Homo sapiens: one gene and its partners. The protein of the gene in region 3 interacts with the protein of the main gene of each other region in a pairwise test. Each region holds a gene or a part of one and is shown on either strand. Other genes may lie near its edges.

Region 1 (7,038 bases), on a different chromosome or scaffold from region 3:
GCTAACAATCAAAAGAAATGGAGGTCAAAAGAAGGCTAGTTCATTGAGTCAGCTGCCAATATTACTTTACAGAAATAAACACTGGAATAATAATGGCCTCTTCATGTTATACAAATGACACAATTTATTCATATAAAGTTCTGATTAGTGCTCTAAATTGACCAGGTAATAAAATATGATGTGGGGGTAAATACCATTGTAATACTCAAAGATACTGTATCCACTGTAATAAATATACACATCAAAAGTCTATTTTTTTCCATCTAAAGACAGATCAAGTTATGAAGAAATTCTTTGGCTTATACAAGTTCTTAGAGATAAAATATATGATCAGCAAAAAAACATAGCTAAGTGTATAAAAACAGTGAAATGCATTTTATGGTTTCTATTTTGCCAACACAGTTACAGTTAACGAGAATTGTCATGACAAAATGATTGCTTTTATGAAAAGAACCTTCTTTATTACCAACCAATCAAATTTCATTTTTATTACTGATGTAAAAAAGTTCAAAACCATAATTCATTTATAGAGCGTACAAAAATAAGAAAAGTGTTCAAGAATAGAGGAGAGGATCATTTACAAAGCAATAAAAAATTAAAGCATGCATCCCTTTTACTGGCAAGGCAAATACTTCTATATATGAATGTCTATAGCTGGATTTACTGAATATTATAACTTCTGTCTTTGAAAAAAAAATGAGAAGCCTGAATTTTCAATATCTCATCTCTATTTGATATCTTCAGTCCATCTGATAACTGCTTATCAAGAAACTTCAAAAATGTTTGAAAAATATTAAAAAGTTTGGTGGCGTTTTCTTTCAATTTTCACCAAAATATGGCAAGCTTGGGCTAACGTTAATAACTCAAAAGTCTTCAAAGAAATAAGACTGACAAATTTTATGGGGCACCCATCACCAAAATCTTTTAAGTTAAAAACTAAAAATCATGTAATTTCAGAGTATAAAATGTTAATAAACCACATTAAGTAAATTAAAACTCATATTACAGCCTATGAACTATTTCATTAGCAGAAAACAAGCCTCTGAAGGGATCTTATTATCAAAGTTTTCAAAAATTTACATAATATTGCTGTTAAGAATTTAGTTTTGGCCAGGTGCAGTGGCTCACACCTATAATCCCAGCACTTTGGGAGGCTGAGGCGGGCAGATCACATAAGGTCAGCAGTTCAAGACCAGCCTGGCCAACATGGTAAAACCCCGTCTTTACTGAAAATACAAAAATTAGCCAGGTGTGGTGGTGGGCACCTATAATCCCAGCTACTTGGGAGGCTGAGGCAGGAGAATCACTTGAACCTGGGAGGCAGAGGTTGCAGTGAGCTGAGATCACCCCACTGCACTCCAGCCTGGGCAACAGAGCAAGACTCCATCTCAAAAAAAAAAAAAAAAAAAAAAAAAAACCAGTTTCAACCTATTCAGCAATACAGTATAATAAAATACAGGATCCACTGCTGTCAATAAACTATATCTTGCCTCTAGTCTGAAGTATAACCTATTTTGTCACTATTTTGCTTTACCATCTGCACCATTCAATCTCAGCTTCGTATCTTCAAGGTCATAAGCACAACTGTGTAAGATTATTCATATGACTAATATGTTTTTTTTTTAATTCTCTTAAACGTGACGGTCGGTCCAATAACTTTTTAATAATTCCTCAGTGCCTTCCTCAATACTGGAAAATCCTCAGAATACTGAGTAAAAATAACAAAATATCTTTATTTTCAAGAGCAAAAGATTAAAGGCTGGGCACGGTGGCTCACGCCTGTAATCCCAGCACTTTGGGAGGCCGGGGTGGGCAGATCACCTGAGGTCGGGAGTTCGAGACCAGCCTGAACAATGTGGAGAAACCCGGTCTCTACTAAAAATACAAAATTAGCCAGGTGTGGTGGCACATGCCTGTAATCCCAGCTACTCAGGAGTCTGAGGCAGGAGAATCACTTGAACCCAGGAGGCGGAGGTTGCAGTGAGCCAAGATTGTACCACTGCACTCCAGCCTGGGCAACAAGAGCGCAACTCCATCTCAAAAAAGAGAAAAATGAATTTAATGCATTGTATTTCTTCAATTATCTGTTGCAACTGTCATCATTAAATATTCTGATACATGGATATACAAGCCTTTACCATCATTTTCTTCATTGTGAGCAATAGCATCACTTCTATATTACAAAAGCCTTTAAACCTTTATTTTCTACTTCCTTTAGCCTCTGGAACTCTTCTGAATGCTTTTCAAGTCCAGATTCCCCAGTACTCATGTGAGGAGGGATGGAATGAAAACACTTTATTACCAATATAAAAACAAATTTTTAAAAACATACCTGTTTTAATCACACTTTCAAGATGCGTACATATGGGTTCCATGGAACGCTGCAAAACTACTTTCCTAGCTCATACTATAAATTAATGCTACTGCTTAAATGAAGTTATTAATAAATTTAAATAATTAAGCACCCAAATGCCCACAACGAGATAAATGGAATATTCCGACCATTCTTTTTTCATCCTTTATATAGTTTACTGAGCTTCTAAATAAAGAACAGAACAGATATTGTTCTTATTTCAAAAGATTAATAAATTATAGTATGATGAAACTAACTGATGTGCTTAAAATATGGCAAGGCACCGGTGGAGTAATAAATCAGAAAAGATGGTATATGAGTAAAGAAAAGTAAGAATACTTTGGGCATTTTCTGCTGTCCAAAATGGTAATGGGATACTACATGTTAAGAGTTAATATCCTCAAAGGACCCCTTACTATAAGGTGAAAGGCTCTTGGGCAATAAAAGTAACAATAGAAACTAACATGTACTGAACATTTATTATCTACCACCCTATACTAGATACTTGACATACATTATAAATATATTATCCCCTTTTACAAATGAGGAAACTGAGGACTAGAAAGGCCTGCCAACAAGAAGCAGGGTTGAGCTTACTCCAGCTCTTACTCCAATGACCTTGTTCCTAACCTTTATACTGAGTTTCAGTATTCTTATCCACAAAATACCTAACAAGACCAAATTGTTATTATTAGCAATTACGTATATAAATCATTTAACACAGTAGCTCAAAAGCTTACTCTTATTATCAATAACCAGCTATGGCAATTCTAATTAACAGACCGCCAATATGACCTATACCAAGATTCAATTTTATAATGAAAATAAACATGGCTGGAGCATATCAAATGTATATATCTTGAAATAAACATCCTGGAATAACAAATTATTCTAGGATACATTACTAAGTAATTTTAATAACTGCAATAACTGTATGTAGATACTTCATATTATTGAATTAAATTATCTGTTATTTACAAATAAATTTTTAAAGCTTTACCAAAATTGTATCTTTAAAGTAACACATTATTATTTTCACCATTTTACAAATGAGAAATCTCAGGCTTAAAAAGGCAGTTAATTTGCCCAAGTTCACACAGCTAGGAAGTAGCTGAATAAGAACCCAGGTTAGACCTTTCACTTCAAAATCCATAGAAAGTGTAAAAGCAACGTGAAGGAAGCAATCAACACTGCAGCCAATTTCTGCTGTTTAGTGCTCAACACCTCTCTCCCTTCTTTTGTGTATCTGGTGGCACTGTGGAGCCCTAATACCTGGAGCCACTCCTGGCACAGGGATGGGCAAGTGAGTTAGGCCTGTCCACCCAAGTACTCTACCCTTTTGGCTGCTCCAAATGCCGTCATGTAGCCCAAATGGGATTACACAACCCTCCCCTATGATATATTCATAACCAACTGACTGGAAGAACAAAATTAAAAAAACAAAATGTGAGTAATGTATTGAAAAATCTCTCCATTAAAAAAAGTGAAAACAAATATACAGGTTATAAAATATTTTTAAACTATTTTTAATAATATCCAGGTCTATTTTTATCCTTTTAAAATTCTAGGCCGGGCACAGTGGCTCACACCTGTAATCTCAGCACTTTGGGAGGCTAAGGCAGGCAGAACACTTGAGGCCAGCAGTTCAAGACAAGCCTGGCCAACATGGTGAAATCCCATCTCTACTAAAAATATAAAAATTAGCTGGGCATGGGGGCAGACACCTGTAATCCCAGCTACTCAAGAGGCTGAGGCAGGAGAATAACTTGAACCTGGGAGGTGGAGGTTGCAGTGAGCCAAGGTTGTGCCACTGCCCTCCAGCCTGGGTGACAAGAGTAAAATGCCACCTCAAAAAAAAAAAAAATTCTAAATCCAGCACATCATCATCTAGAGAAACAACTATTCATTCAAAAGCATAACTTACCATTTCTTTCCATATTAAGCTAAAAGAACAGTTCAAAATTATCTTCCACTTTAAAAAATATATTCCAAAAAACTACTGAACAGATGCATAAATATGTTTACGTAAGCACTGCTTACAACAGACAAAAATCACACACACGTGTGATGGCTTTGGGACACATCAGCTTACCTACACTGAATACACTTGCCAAAATTCCCTTTCTACTATGTCTCTAAAGTGGGCTACAAGGGATATTCTCCGCCAGGTGTTGGGAAGAGAAGAGAGGCAACGTCATTTTGTAGCAGACACACACTTCCTCCTAGCTTTTCTAACCCTAATCTAGGTGCTGCCATAAAGAGATTCTGCTGATATAATTAAAGTCCCTACTTAGTTAGCTTTACATTAATCAAAAGGGAGAGTATCCTAAGTGGCCTGATTTTATCAGTTGAAAGCCCTTTAAAAAAGGGTCTAAGTCCTCCCTGGGATCAGACACTCCAGGTAGTACCTGGTCTTGCCAGTGCTTAGTCCTGGATCTCCCCCGGCTCCTGACTGCCCGCCTTGCATGCTTTGCACTTACTTTGCCAGCCTCCACATTAAGAGCCAATTCTTTGCCATGTGTTTGTGTATGCACATACATGCATGTGTGTGTGTGGCTCGAGAGAGAAATAGATATCCTGGTACTTCTGCTTCTCTGGTTGAACTGACTGATAACAACTCTCTAAATACCCATCCGAGTAATACTACTTAAGTAAATTTTGGCTTCTTCATTACAATGAAATACTACATAACCATTTTAAAATGATGATGTGTAATTCCATTCACAGACATGAAAAGAGATCCCAATATATGACAAAACAGGTTACAAAAAATTATGCATATTATATGTCGATTTTTTTAATTCAGGGAAAGAGAATGAAATAGCTTTGCTCATCAAAGTTTTAATGATGGATGGAATTTTAAAGTCTTAATCTGTGTGGTATGATTTCAGGTAATTTTTACTTTATCTCTGGATTGTTTTCATTTTCCATAATGGCAACATATCATTATCATTATCAGGAAAAAAAAACTAGACAACAAACCTTTCTCATTTGACAGGAAAAAAATGTCAGGTAGACTTACATTAAATGGTTAAAACGGTGCCCAGAGTCTTAAAGGATGAACAGGAGTTATTCAAGCAAAGTGCACATCTCAGGCAAGGGGCAAGGAAAGAAGTGACAAGACATGAGGCTGTCCTACTGACAATGAGAAACCAACAAAATGTTAAAACAAGAGGAGGTTTTTTTTTTTTTAAGGAAAATTAAAATAAAACAAAACAAACAAAAAACCCACTGAGGCTTGCAGTGTATGGACTCTACTGGAAGGAAGCCAGACTGGAAGCAGAGAAATCAATTCAGAGACTACTATGGTTATCTAAGCAAAAAATGACAAAGCTTTGAACTAAGGTAACAGCAGTAGAAATGGACAGAATAAGTCCTATTTAGGAACGATAACTGAGAAAAGTTGGCAAGGGAAATACTGGTAGTAAGGAGATAGAAGCAGTTCACTTAAACTGGGGAGTTCAGAGAAGACTTCTAAAAAGATATCCTTATGAATAAGGATCTCAAAGAAGTCACTTCAAGAATACCACAGAGAGATGCCAGATATCTTTAAATGTTTCCAAAAGAAATAATCAGTGTTAGCTCATGTCCACAGGAAGGAAAGGTAATAAGCAAAGTGTTGGATACACTAAAAATTAGAGCTCTCAACTACAAAAACAGATTCATAATTACTTAAGTTATAACAGATCTATATAGATACATAACTCCAACCTGTACTACCAGAAACAGAACACTGTGAATAGTTGCTGGATTTGAGTCACATTTATAAGTCATTTACAAGTCAAACACAGGGTTTCCGATAAATTATTACTTTAACCACTGCTATAGTCTGAATATCCCCTTCACAACTCATGCTGAAATGGAATTACCATTCTGACAGTATTAACAGGTGGGATTGTTAAGAGATGACTAGATCATGAGGGCTCCACCCTCATGAATGGATTCATCTCTTTATCCCAAGAGTAGGTTGTTGTAAAAGCAAGTTCAGCCCTCTCAGTCCCTGGCTCTTGCCCTCCCTGGCCTTTCCACCTTCTGCCACAGGATAATGCAGCACAAAGGCTCGCATCAGATACCGGCACCTTGAAGCTGGAGTTCGTTGCCTCCCAAAATGTGAGACTTGAATTTTTTTTCTTTGTAACTTACCTAGTCTGTGGTATTCTGTTATAGCAACACAAAACAGATTAAGGCAGCCTCCTGTTTTCACTTCTTGGCAAAACATAATCTTATAAATTTTAACAATTACAATCATTTAAATTACAAAAGTAAACTATGCTCACTATAGTAATTCAAACAATTCAGAAATATAGTTCCTCCACCCTCTACCAACAATCTATCTTTATTATCCCAATCGCTAGTTACAATTAGTTGAATATTCTTAACATATATAAACATATGTATGTTTATATAGATTTCATGAGTTCATACAAAATAGATATTATTTTATAACTTTTTACTTAATATAACCATAGCTTTCAAGACAACGTATTTAACAGATATACTTCTTCATTTTTGGATCTGTAAAAATGTGACCATACCATAATTTTTGTATAAATGTTTTTGACAAATAATAACTGTACATTTAGGAGGTACAACGTGATATTTTGAACTAAATAAATCAAAGAATAGAAAGAATAAATCAAGGTAATTAATATATCCATCACCGCACCAACTTAAATTTTTGTAAG
Region 2 (7,930 bases), on a different chromosome or scaffold from region 3:
GCCATGTTATAATGATTTATGAGAGCTTCACTCATTACTGTTCTTGTAACTATCAATTTTATTAGAACAAACTGAAATGTTTGAAAAGGTTAAAACTCTCCTCTAAAGCTATAATTTTGTTTGATCTCCTACAGGGATTTCTATTTTTTTTAGTCCTCTCATCTGGGAGTTTATCAAGAGATGTTGCTCCTGTTTCAATAAGTGGTCAGGTCATCAACCAATTATCAAATTGAATACTAGAGGGCTACTATTACTTGTAGTGCTTGGATTTGGAGTACAAAACGAGTTCCTTGGCTCTGCCTTCCAAGGAGTAAGGGCCAGAGAAATTATTAGTACTTTGAGTTTCTTGTTAATAAAAAACAATCTCAAAAAAATGGCAAAATTAAAATCAGCCCAAGTTCTGCCACCTCAAGATATGCACTAAGATTTTGTGGATCACTTTCCTTTTATTCTAAAAAAGTACTTACTCTGGGTGTAATGGCTCGTGCCTATAATCCTAACACTTTGGGAGGCTGAGGCGGGAGGATTGCTTGAGCCCAGGAGTTTGAGACCAAGGCTGGGCAACATAGGGAGACCCTATTTCTACCAAAGGAAAAAAAATTAGCTGGGTGTGGTGGTGTGTGCCTATGGTCCCAGCTATTCAGAAGGTTAAGGTGGGAGGATTGCTTGAGCCTGGGAGGTCGAAGCTGCAGTGAGCTGTGATCACACCACTGCACTCCAGCCTGGGTGACAGAACAAGACCCTGTCTCTCCCTCCCAAAAAACTCTGTATCTATATATCCGTATCAGTATACATAGTTATGGATATGTTATAAAAATGGGATATTGGCCAGGCGCAGTGGCTCACGCCTGTAATCCCAGCATTTTGGGAGGCCGAGGTGGGCAGATCACAAGGTCAGGAGATCGAGACCATCCTGGCTAACACGGTGAAACCCCATCTCTACTACAAATACAAAAAATTAGCCAGGTGTGGTGGCGGGAGCCTGTAGTCCCAGCTACTCGGGAGGCTGAGGCAGGAGATTGGTGTGAACCCAGGAGGCGGAGCTTGCAGTGAGCCGAGACTGTGCCACTGCACTCCAGCCTGAGTGACAGAGCGAGACTCTGTCTCAAAAAACAAAAAACAAAAAACAAAAACAAAAAAAGGGATATTATATTGTTTTATAATTTACTTTTTCCCTTTGTTAGTTCGTGATTGTCTACATTAATAAAATGATATCTACTCATGCATAAAATTCAATGGTACAGATGGTTACTTAAGTAAAGTCCAGTGGGACATCTGGTTTAAGGTGTTGCAGGATGCAGCACTCAAATAACGTTTTGAGGTCTGCTTCTCCCCTTTCTATTTGCTCTGTCTTCTGCTGCCTTGGTGCCATTCACATGTTGCACATAGAGGCAGCAGTTCGAGTATATGCATCCAGGATCTTGGCTGGCAGAAGGAAGCAAGACTCTATTCCCATAGCAATATCTGATCCTATCATTGTAGCCTATGCCTGGGTTACATGATACACTCTTGGAATCCAAGTGTTGCACTTGGATAACATACATAGAGAATGGGGAAAGGAGGGAAGTAGGGAGAGGTGGGCCCCAGAGGGAATTGGTAGGATGGTTATCAGAAGGAGAATGAATGAATGTCGGGTGGCCCAAAACACAGGTCCACAATCTATACACGGACATTTGGAACTTGTTTTACATTGGTTTCCTAGGGCTTTCGTAACAAAGCAACACAAACTGCGTGATTTGAAAACAAATTTGTTGTCTCACTGTTCTGGAGGGCTGGAAGTCCAAGATCAAGATACCCACAGGGTTAGTTCACTCCATGGGCTGTGAGGGAGAATCTGTTCCATGGCTCTGTCCTAGCTTTCGGCAGTTTGTTGGCAGTCCTGGTGTTTGTTGGCTTGTAGATGCATCGTCCTGATCTCTGCTTTCGTGTTCACATGGTGTTCTTCCTGTGTGCACAGTGTGATTTCTTTTTCTGTTTTAAATAAAGACACTTCATATTGGATTAGGGATCCTTCCTACTCTAATATGACTGCATTTTAATTAATTACATCTGCACTGATCCTATTGCCAAATAAGATCACATTCGAAAGTACTAGGGGTTAGAGCTTCAACATATGAATTTTTGAGGTCACAATTCAATCCAACATATTTCTACGCATTTAATATTTCTGGCTACATCTAAGACCCACCCGGTCTGGGTGTGAATGCCAAAACCAGCTGTCTCCCTCTTTCTGCTGTGTGGGCTAGGAGACTGGATGAGGCCACCTCTAGGGTCCCTTCCAGATAACTTCGCGATTAAGTGTCAGGGCTAGGAATCCATCCTGCTGTCTGAATGTATGTTACAGTACCACCACTTACTAGCTCAGGGACTTTGGGCAAGGGGCTTAACCTCTGCAAATTTCAGTCTCCTCAACCAGTAAAATGAGGATAAGAGTCCTTCACCCATTGGTTTGTTGTGGGTTAGACACATAGCCTTCAATGAATGTCAGGCAGTGTGACTGTTCCACTTCTTTGAGGATGCAAGGACTGTAGAGCCAGGAGAAGAACCTATATAACTCCTGGTGTTCTCATTCTCTCATGGTAATTCAGTGCTATAACTTCTCCAGAGGTTCTCTTGTTAGAACTTCAAGAGCGAGGCCGGGCACAGTGGGTCATGCCTGTAATCCCAGCACTTTGGAAGGTCGAGGCCAAGGAGTTCAAGACCAGCCTGACCAACATGGTGAAACTCCGTCTCTACTAAATACAAAAAATTAGCCGGGTGTGGTGGCGCATGCCTGTAATCCCACCTACTTAGGAGGCTGAGGCAGGAGAATTGCTTGAAGCCGGGAGGCAGAGGTTGCAGTGAGCTGAGATTGTGCCATTGTACTCCAGCCTGGGCAAAAAGAGCAAAACTCCATCTCAAAAAACAAACAAACAAAAAAACTTCAAGAGGGGAAAGGGTTCCTTTTTTTATCTTGCAAACAGGAACTCAAATCCAGCTCAGGGAATGCAAGGTATTTCTCTCTCTCCCCTGAAGCTGGATGCCGTAAATTCTGAGCCAACTCCTTTTCTTTTAGGCAATGTGATTATTAAATACCTGTCCCCCTTAAGTTTCACTTATCTCTCTCTCTCTTATCTCGTTTTCTCTTATAACTTGATTTTTCCCACCAGCTTTCAGATGTGGGCTGGAACCAGTATTTTATTTACAATCTCTCTGTTTTTGGCTTCATAAATTTGGGGAAATGCAACAGATGTGTGCTGCTTTCCCAGGAAGCACATCTTTAGTTTTTTCATGCTTTAACTACACAGTCTAATTCGGCTTGCCTAAATGCTTATTCAATAACGACTTTGAGTTCTTGCAGGTAGCAGAACCTAGCTGATACAGGTATATTAGGCCTTACACCAAGGTCAAAGCAGGAGGAGGTGCCATTCACCTTTAAAAAAATGTGGTCACTTTCATTTAGTGCCAGGTGTTGTTCTAAGCACCAGGGAAATAACAATGAACAAGAGAGCCACCATCCCTGCTTTTGAGGAGTGCACATTCTGAAACATTCATTTCTGCAGAAAATATATAATGAGAACTTATGACATGTTAGATATTGTTCATCATTAAACAAAACAGAAACAATCTGCACTGATGGTTTTGTTGTGTGCGTGGGTGGTGGCAGGAGAGGGGGAAGAATACAGTACACATAAGTACATTAAAAGAATCCTGTTAAAAGGTGGTAAGTGCTATGGAAAAAATGAAGTAGGGTAAGGCGGATTAGGAATATTGGAATGATTTACAAATTTAAATAGGATGGTCAGGGTAGGTGATACTTGAACGAAGACTTGAAGGAAAATGAGGAAGGGAGCCTCAATATTTGGGGGATGAGCAAGTCCAAAAGCCCTGGGACATGAGTGTACCCTGCTTTTTCAAGGAGAGCCAGGAGGCCATTTCAGCTGAAGAAGAGTGAGGAAGGTGAGAACAGGAGGAAATGTGGCTGGGGGTAGATCAAATGGAGCTTTTATGCTGCGTGAAACGAGAAATTAATGGAAAGTGCTGAGCAAAGAAGTGACCTGGTGTCACGCTTCAAAGGACTGGTCTGGCGGCTTTGTTCAGGCTGGACTGTGCAGGTGCGGGATGGTGAGGGGATATTTGGGGGGCTGCTGTAACCACACGGGTGGGGTGGTACAACCCTCTGATGCACATCAGAGGGTAGGAGGTGGAGGTGGTGTGACACGGCCAGATTAGGGGTCTATTTTGGAGGCAGGGCCAACAAGATTTTGCTGGCAGATTAGATGTGGGGTGTGAAAGAGAAGAGGCAGGGAGGATTCCTAAATTTTGCCTCTTAAGAATAGAGTAGCCATTGATTGAGATGGCAAAGAAGACTGGTGGAGAACGTTTTTGCTTTGCTTCGGTGCATTGGGAGTTCCAGGAGTTCCGTTTGGACGTTAAGTTTGAAGGGGCTATTTACTATCCAAGCGGAGCGGAGAGCTGGATTTTGAAGCTCTCTGGGAACATACTTTTGGGGACATTTCTAAAGCTTGAGACCCTGTTCCAAAGCCTCGAAGACCCTGTCGAGGTTCTTCCGGAGCCGGCCACGTCCCTCTCTTCTCAGCCCTCCTAAATTAAGCCGGAAAATCCCTGGGACAGTAGCCCCTTTATTCGGCAAAGCCCTTTTTCCTCTTTGAGGAATGACGACAAAAACGAACAAAAATGAAGACACTCAGCAGCACTGCGTCCTTTCCCCGCTCGCTGCAGGGAGAGGCAATGCGGACTGGTGTGGAAGGGCAGGCCCCGCTCTGGGCCGCAGGCGCTGCGGCCGCGAACCCCAGGTCCGGGAGTGTGGGCGGGGCCTGCGTGTGGGCGGGGCCGCGGCGCCAGCGCCCGCCACGGGCGAGGGCGTGGCCGACCCGGCGCTAGCCCGCCCGCCCGCCCGCCGGCTCTCGCGCCTCCTTCGCGCCGGCCCTTCCGCGGGTGATCAGCTGGTCTGCGCTCCCCTGACGTGGGCTGGGGCACGTCACCGCCGAATGGCAGCCTCCAGAAAGCCACCGCGAGTAAGGTGAGGGCACTCCGCCGGCAGCCGGCGTCCGGGCAGCGTGCAGCCCTCGCTGCGCGGCCGCGCGTGTTGCACCTCGGCGGGCAGGGACGCGCGGGTGAGGAGCCCGGCCCGCCGCAGTCTGGCGAGGGCCGCGCTCGCCGGAGCCCCGGAACAGGAGCCGGGGGAAGGGGTCCATGAGGCCGGGCGAGATCCGGTTCGTTTCCGGAGGGTCGGTGGGCACGGGGCGGCCCGAGTCTGGTTCCTGGACGCGTATGCCCGCGGAACTGCTGCACTCGGCCTGAGGGGGCGGCGGCCGTCACAGTTCCTGGCCCGCGGGAAGGCCCCGTTCTTGGAGGAAGTTGGCCCCTCTTCGTGTCCGGGGAGGTGGGCGAGCCTTTGCCCTCGCTTCTGTTACCCAGGAATCTAAACCTCAAGTTACAATCTCGACAATACTGACTCCTGCAATTCACTCTACTGATCTGTCACCGCCACAAGGATAGACGGTCGCGGGCCCCTCCCTACCCAAATGGTTTCAGAGGCTGTGTAAGGGAATATTTTGGTATAATCTCCAGGAAAATCCCCCCAGTAGCCTGCCCTGGGCTCTCCTTGGGCATAGGAGGGTGAGACAGATAATTTCCCGGCCTCAAGTTAAACATGTTTTAGTTTATTCCCCTGCCATAACCAGGATGTACTTATCAGAGCCTCTGACAAAGTGGGAGACGGAGAGAGGTGTTCAGAGTTCATGGAGGCCACAGGCCAGACTCCCTGGCCATCCCCAAGGGGTCACCCACCTGCTAACCACTTGAGACATGAATGCACTCACTTTGCAGCATGGCCAGGCTTTCTTGCTGAACACAGACCATGGCTCCTGCTTGTGTTTGTGAGTAGGGGGGTCCCAAACCTACCTTGACCTGGATTTGCCGTTGCCACAGCTTGTTAAGGGTGAGCAGAAAACCAGACCCACCCTGTGGAAGTATGTGGGAGGGGTGGAGAACTTCCATCTGGAAGGAGCTTCCTGTAAGTGAAGTGCTGGAAATGGAGTCAGGCAAGTGGATAATGATGAGTTAGGCTGTAGGCCTCAGGTGGTCTTTAGGGGGCCAAGGTGATCTGTGCTAGATTTATAGACTCACAGCCTTTTAGGAGCAGAAGAGTCTTTTCTACACCAGCTGGTAGAGTCTTTTTTACCTCAAAGGAAAGTCCAGTGAAAGGCTGAGAGAGGGGAAGCCATTTTCCACAGGCGCCTCCCCTACTGGTAGAATTTGAGTGCCATTCCTTGTAAAAGTGAGCACTTCTTTCAGTTTCGGTAATGGAAACTGAACTCAAATTGATTTACCTAAAATGGGGTTGAGCTGGCTTCTAGTGTGGCTGAATCCGGGAGCACCACCAACATTGGCTTCAGACTTCTCTTTATCATCTCTTGGCTCTGATTTATTCAGTATCCGCTTCATTCTCAGGGAGACTTTCTCCTTATGGCAGGTTATGACAGTTCTAGGCTGACAGCCCCAGCAGAGAAGTTGAGCCCTCCTTCCTAATGGAGCAGAAGTCCCTGATCTGATGCTCACTGGGCTGCCTTAATTCTCATGTTCATCTGTGAACCAATCATTATGGCCAGAGGGAGGGATTGACCTGCTTTGGGTCCCAGAGCCTGTTAGGTGTTTGGATAAGACTGCTTTGAACCCCTTGGGCTGAAATGGAGAGGGTACATTCTCAAAAGGAAAACCAAGGTTCCCATCAAAAGGAGGGATGGATTCTGGGTAGACAAAGACAACATTGCTTACTTCCCAACCTTAGAACTTGTTCCAGTTTACCCTTGTCTCATCCACTAGGTGTGATTGAGCATCTTGTTCCTTGTTTTGCCCCATGCTGAACGCTACACATGTGTGATTCCCATGAACTGGGGGTTGCAGGGGGGTGAGGTATTCAGAACCCTGCCAGAATTTCTTGGAAAAAGAGGGAGAAGGCCTTTTCTAGTGCTACCATAACCATCTTATACAAAGATTGAAAGTGCTCTGCATGCTTCTTGCCCCTTACCCACTTTGTGGCTCATCATGAAGTTGAGAAGGTGTAGGTCGAAGAAGTTCTGGGAAGGGTAGGAGCACTGAGCTGGATGTTGGGAGGCTGGAACGCTGGTTCTAGCTCTGTCAGCAGTTAGCTGTGAGGCCTTGAGCCAGTCATTTGATCTTTGTTTCTTGGTTTCCTGGTCTAGAGGAGGGAATTGAGTTGGATAGTCCCTGAGGTATATTCTTCTAGTTCTTAATATTTAATGATAATTGTGCTTTGACAGAGAACTTAAGAATTTTATCTGTCCAAACAAGTGAAAGGTGGATAGATCTTGGACTCTGCGGAGACCAAGATACGACAAGAACAGAGCAGCTGTAGTATTGAGCTGCTTCGTAGCTCCTGTGATCCTGACAGAAAGGTGGAGGTGTTGATGCTCACACAGAGAGTTTGAGCTCACCTGTCAGACCTAGTTTCTGGTCTTGGCTTTGCGGCTACTGAGTTATATGGCCTATGGTAAGTTATCTTTGTTTTTTTATTCTGTAAAATGAATGAATAGGATTACCTTAAGGTAACCTTGGCTAGGCACGGTGGCTCACACCTATAGTCCCAGCACTTTGGGAGGCTGAGGTGGGAGGATCACTTGAGGCCAGGAGTTTGAGACCAGACTGGGCAATGTGGTGAGATCCTGTCTCTTCAGAAAATTATTAAAAAAAAAAAATCAGGTTGGTGTGATGGCACATACCTGTAGTCCTAGGTCCTTGGGAGATTGAGGCAGGAGAATTGCTTGAGCTTAGGAGTTTGAGGCTGCCATAAGCTAAGATTGTGCCACTGCACTCCAGCCTGAGTGACACAGCAAGACCCTGTCTCTAAAAAAATGATAACCTTCCACCTCTGTAGTCATGTGTCTGAACCAGTCATTGGGATCAG
Region 3 (5,475 bases):
CTGCATGACACATGTCAGGAAGATCGCCAGGGAGGGGAGGTTACAAGCCCAGGTTGCAGGAATAACCTTTACTCTGAATTTTGGTCTGAAAGACTTTTCCTTCGTCTGGAGCTGGGCTGGCCTTGTGATATTGTGCCACAGCAGACACGACACTGTCTCCAAGGCGGAGCTCATTGCCTGGGGCTTTCCCACTGCACTGAATGAGAATTTATTTGGCCTTTAATGAAATTCAGATTGTCCCATTTATGCAGTCCTCTGTTTAAGTGACAGGCACTGAATATGGTTGCTTTCAAGCAAGTTATTTTGTTTAACCAGGGGCCTAGCGGAGTTCGGGATACACAGATGGCCACCAAAAATGTTAAAAGAAAGAAATAACTTAATCCTCACAGCATCTCTGAGAAGTGGTTCCTAAATTTATCACAATCTTGCAGATGTGTAAGCTGAGGTGTGGAGTTCAAGCAGCGTGCTCAAAGCCATGTGTAGGTGACAGTGCCTGATTTCAGATGCAGATAACTCTAAGGCCAGTCTGTTGCATCTCTTACCAGTTTTTGGAAAAACCTCAAGGGAAAAACCACAGCAAATTTTTAGAGTTCTAGTAATTTCTTTTCCCCTATTACAACACATATTCCCATAAACCAAGGACTGTGTGATTAGTCAATAAACAAAAAGAAATGCATATAGTATCTGTCGCTCATAACGTTCTTGTTTCTTGCAGTTTCCAACATGGCTAGATCCATCAGAAACTGAAGCCGTGGAGAACGCTCTCGGGGCCTTTGCCACTTCTTGGAGTAGAAGCCGACAGAGAGCTGTTTGGAAACTTCTCCTTCACACACCAGGTTGCTACTGAGGTCTATTTCATGTTGCAGTCAGAGCAGTTGCTTGTGTTTTTTAGTGCTTGAGTGATTTTACAGATAAAGTCAGCTTCTGCTTCTTGACCGGGAGGCATTTGTGTGTGTGTGTGTGTGTGTGTGTGTGTGTGTGTGTGTGTGTGTGTGTGTTGGGGGAAGACAGATCTAAGCTCTCCCTGTGAGGGGAAGAGTGGATTGCACAAGCGGGGTTGGATGGCTACACTGAGATTACCCCACATTTAATCAGTTTGCCAATGAGGAAGCCCCTTATCTTCAAAAAAGGCAAGAAAGAAAGAAAGACTTCATTTTCCCCCTTCTCTTTCTGTTCCAGTTGAAGACTAGGCTTTGGAGGTTTTCAAAGCAGACGGTGCTTGGATGGGCAGGGAGAAGTAACATTCTGCAAATCGCCGTCAGAGGTCCTGAGGACACAGACCTACCTGGCTTGCATTCCCCTTGCTGAATGGCGTGTGCTGCAGCTGCCCACTGAGGGCTCTTTTCCCTGGGATTCTGGACTTCAGAGTAGGACAGCAGGCTGGGAAGATGCTGAGTTCCATCAAGTGCGTGTTGGTGGGCGACTCTGCTGTGGGGAAAACCTCTCTGTTGGTGCGCTTCACCTCCGAGACCTTCCCGGAGGCCTACAAGCCCACAGTGTACGAGAACACAGGGGTGGACGTCTTCATGGATGGCATCCAGATCAGCCTGGGCCTCTGGGACACAGCCGGCAATGACGCCTTCAGAAGCATCCGGCCCCTGTCCTACCAGCAGGCAGACGTGGTGCTGATGTGCTACTCTGTGGCCAACCATAACTCATTCCTGAACTTGAAGAACAAGTGGATTGGTGAAATTAGGAGCAACTTGCCCTGTACCCCTGTGCTGGTGGTGGCCACCCAGACTGACCAGCGGGAGATGGGGCCCCACAGGGCCTCCTGCGTCAATGCCATGGAAGGGAAGAAACTGGCCCAGGATGTCAGAGCCAAGGGCTACCTGGAGTGCTCAGCCCTTAGCAATCGGGGAGTACAGCAGGTGTTTGAGTGCGCCGTCCGAACTGCCGTCAACCAGGCCAGGAGACGAAACAGAAGGAGGCTCTTCTCCATCAATGAGTGCAAGATCTTCTAAACCCCAAGAGACTTCACACAACACTTATGTATGCACCCCAAAGACTAATGGGGAGAGGGAGGGCCGGGAAGCCAGGAAAGCTTGGTGTTTTCTCTGGGTACACCCCAAGCAGCGTCTCCTTTTGGATACAGTTATTGATGAGGCTTGGCCACTGGATGTTTTCACTAACTACACTCTACAAGTGAACTCCTTGCCCAGGCCAGTTAGAAAATCCCTTGGGGAACTGTGATGAATATTCCATCTTTGATTAAAAAAGTGAAATAGTCTCCATAATTTTGGACGATGAAGTGAGTTTTTCAAAGAATTCCATATTTAAAGACACATTTTATTTAACTAATAACAAAATGTATTGCTTTTGTATATATTTAGTTTTCACACTTGGAAAATCTTTTCCTACATCCTCGAAAACATAAACTCCTCTGTGAGTGAAATGCTTGTACGAAGCTCTGCCATATGTTTGTAGTGTTATTATTTTCACCTCAAGTAGAAAGTCTGTTGAAACCACTTGGCTGCTGGATTTAAATGGGTAATCAAATTTAAAAATGACCATAAATGAATCTTTGCAATTTGTTTTCTACTTACCTGTTATTCACAGTTGGATATAAAATACAGTTCCATAAGATATCCTAATACTGCCTAATGATTTTAAAGTTATCACTATATTTTTCTGAAATGATAAAACATCATTCATTTATTTACTATATTGTCTTTCACTCAACTCCAGTTATGCACTAAATATTCTCCTCTCATTCACCAAGATTGATTGAAACACCATCTTTCAGGTAGAGAATCAGACTGCTCCAAGCAATGGCAACAGAACTTGGAACAGAAGCAAGAGAGTGTCACTTTCACTTCTGGTAGGGTGGTTCCCAGGCGACTGCAGGTCCTGTGAAAGACAGGGGTCTCAAAGTTCTGTTAATTTCACAAATTTGTTATAAATTTGTCTAAACTGAGCTGTTGTGGCAACATAATTTATGAATCGTAAGGTCTAGTTAGGCTTATTGGGGGGATATCTACATATATATGTGTATGTAAGGGAAAAAAGGTAGAATTTACAGCCTTCAAAAAAGAAAAATCAAATTCCAAGCACAGGAATAAGAAAGCTATATAGCAACTGCTCAGAGAACAGAAAGTTATCAGGGGAAATACTGAATAAATAGACACACACATACTCGCACACAACCTGCTCTCACACACACAACTCAAACCTCATTCTATCGAATAGTTTAAAAGCAATGGTGTTGCTCATCTGTTAAAGTGGAGAACAGAGGACTACATAACTTAAGGTAGAAATTGCAAAGGCTGGGTTGGGCAGGGCGTGGTGGCTCACTTTGGGAGGCTGAGACGGGTGGATCACGAGGCCAGGAGTTCAAGACCAGCCTGGCCAACATGGTGAAACCCCGTCTCTTCTAAATATTAGCTAAAAATTAGCTGGGTGTGGTGGCACATGCCTGTAGTTCTAGCTACTCAAGAGGCTGAGGCAAAAGAATTGCTCGAACCTGGGAGGCGGAGGTTGCAGTAAGCCAAGATCGCGCCACTGCACTCCAGCCTGGGCAACAGAGGGAGACTCCATCTCAAAAAAAAAAAAAAGAAAAGAAAAAAAAGAAAGAAATTGCAAAGGCTGGCACCTAGATAGATCAATCAATTACTGCCCTAATCAAAACTTAGAAACACTCTGAACCACCTTTATGAAGGTACATCATTGTTATGGGGTAACGTGACTATTACACACAAAAGGTAAGGTGGCTGGCATAAATGACTTTGATTAGAATTATGTTGACATAGCCAAACCAGTTTCTCTGTTCCCTTGTGTGGTCAATTCCTTACAGCTATAATCAGTATCAAAAACCAAATGTGTGCTCATTCACACATTGCTTTCTCCTTCTCTCTCTCCTCCTATCCACAGCCAGTAAAAGGCCTGGGACCGGGGTCTTGATCTCTGGTGGGAGGATTGCCTCGGTTCCCTGGGGCTGACACAGCTGCCTTCACTCAGACTTCTCTGCTCTCCAGGCGGTGGCTTGTACTCACCTCTAAGTCACCCGCCTCCCTTGATTGGAGAGCCCGTGTCTCTAGTTCTCAGCTCAGGGTTGGGGGGCTTGAAAGATGACCGGGCAGGGGAGGGGAAGGGATCTCATATCCTCTGATATCCCTGGGATTCTCTTCTTCTCCCTCAACCCACAGAGTCTTAAATCACGGATGCGGGTGTTCAGGGCCAGCCTTTGCCATGAGAGGTATTTAACATGTCAGTGGGAAGGAATTTCTATTCACTGCAGTGGGCTGTCCCCCAGGCTTTTCTTTCTCTCTTGTTGAAGAGAGATGGGGGTGGGTATCTGAAAGTGGGAAGGGCCACCATACATGATCCTAAGTGAAGGAAGAGGAGGTGGTTCCACGGTGGCAGCAGAGCAGGAAGGGAAGGCCAGAGAGGGCACACTCAAATGGCTTTGCTGTCACCTGGGCAAAGACACACAGGTGAGACCTCCACCTGTTGGCGGGAGCCAAGCTTAACAGCTCCGTCTGGGAACTCTCATACCTGAGACCAGGAATCTATGTGTAAACCCTTTCCAGTGGCAGAATCTGGCAGAAATGGAGCCGATAAGTGTCTGTCTTCCTGCTAGACTGCTGTTCTTGAAGGTAGCACTGCCTCCTGGTCTCCTCAGTGTCCCCAGGGCTCAGCACAGGGAAGGCAATGGAGGTAAAGTTGTGTTAAACTGAAATGGAGAGAAAGACAGTAATTGGGCTTCTGTGCCACACAGTGGTTATAGAAAGCAAGCAGACCCTCACCAGCCTTGTAGGGGTAAGAAGAAAAATAGGTCATATGGGTAGAATCCGTGTGTTGTGTGTTCTACATAAGCACATACTTACTTTTGCCTGCCTAGATGCAGACACAGGTTTCTTATACTTCAAAATTTGTGGTACCTTTTTGTAGACTATTGCATATCGATTCTTAACTATTCCAAGTAGCAGCATTAAATATGTTCTTGATGACATTAAAGAGTTAATTTTCATGGTCGGGTAGTTCATTCTTGTCTCTGTCAGCCTGGGCTGCTATAGTGGAAAACCATAGACTAGGGGACTTCAATAACAGAAATTTATCTCTCACAGTTCTGGAGGCTGGGAAGTCCAAGGCAAGGGACAGCATGGTTGGGTTCTGGTGAGACCCCTCTGCCTGGTTTGCAATGGCTGTCTTCTTGCTGTGTTCTCACATGGTAGAGCAAGAGATCATCTTTCTGGTGTTTCTTCTTCTAAGGATAATAATCCCATTCATGAGGGCTCAACCCTCATGATCTAATACCTCGCAAAGTCCTCACCTCCAAATACCATCACACTGGGGATTAGGCCTCAACATTTTGAGATTTGTGGGGACACAAACATTCCATCCATAGCAATTCTATTCTGTCTTACTTTCCACTGACTAGTTAACTGGGCAGCAGAATCCAGTGCAGTGAGTGACAAGAAAGCTAGAAGCATCCTGATTAAGTTTGTTCAGTGCTTCAGATGTGCTGTGCCGGCC

The links.
Region 1: the proteins of RHOH (region 3) and MTX2 interact in binary tests that used the Homo sapiens proteins (3 or more experiments, as listed by UniProt).
Region 2: the proteins of RHOH (region 3) and XPNPEP1 interact in binary tests that used the Homo sapiens proteins (3 or more experiments, as listed by UniProt).

The regions. Positions count from the first base shown.
Region 1 is NC_000002.12:176,272,421-176,279,458, reverse strand, and holds part of MTX2 (metaxin-2), read right to left. Parts: intron 1-7,038. UniProt on the Homo sapiens protein: Involved in transport of proteins into the mitochondrion.
Region 2 is NC_000010.11:109,920,495-109,928,424, reverse strand, and holds the start of XPNPEP1 (xaa-Pro aminopeptidase 1), read left to right. Parts: upstream 1-4,913; 5' UTR 4,914-4,991; coding exon 4,992-5,023; intron 5,024-5,178; exon of another isoform or gene 5,179-5,528; coding exon of another isoform or gene 5,529-5,545; intron 5,546-7,930. UniProt on the Homo sapiens protein: Metalloaminopeptidase that catalyzes the removal of a penultimate prolyl residue from the N-termini of peptides, such as Arg-Pro-Pro. Contributes to the degradation of bradykinin.
Region 3 is NC_000004.12:40,241,999-40,247,473, forward strand, and holds the end of RHOH (rho-related GTP-binding protein RhoH precursor), read left to right. Parts: intron 1-715; 5' UTR 716-836; exon of another isoform or gene 837-848; intron 849-1,179; 5' UTR 1,180-1,388; coding exon 1,389-1,964; 3' UTR 1,965-4,969; downstream 4,970-5,475.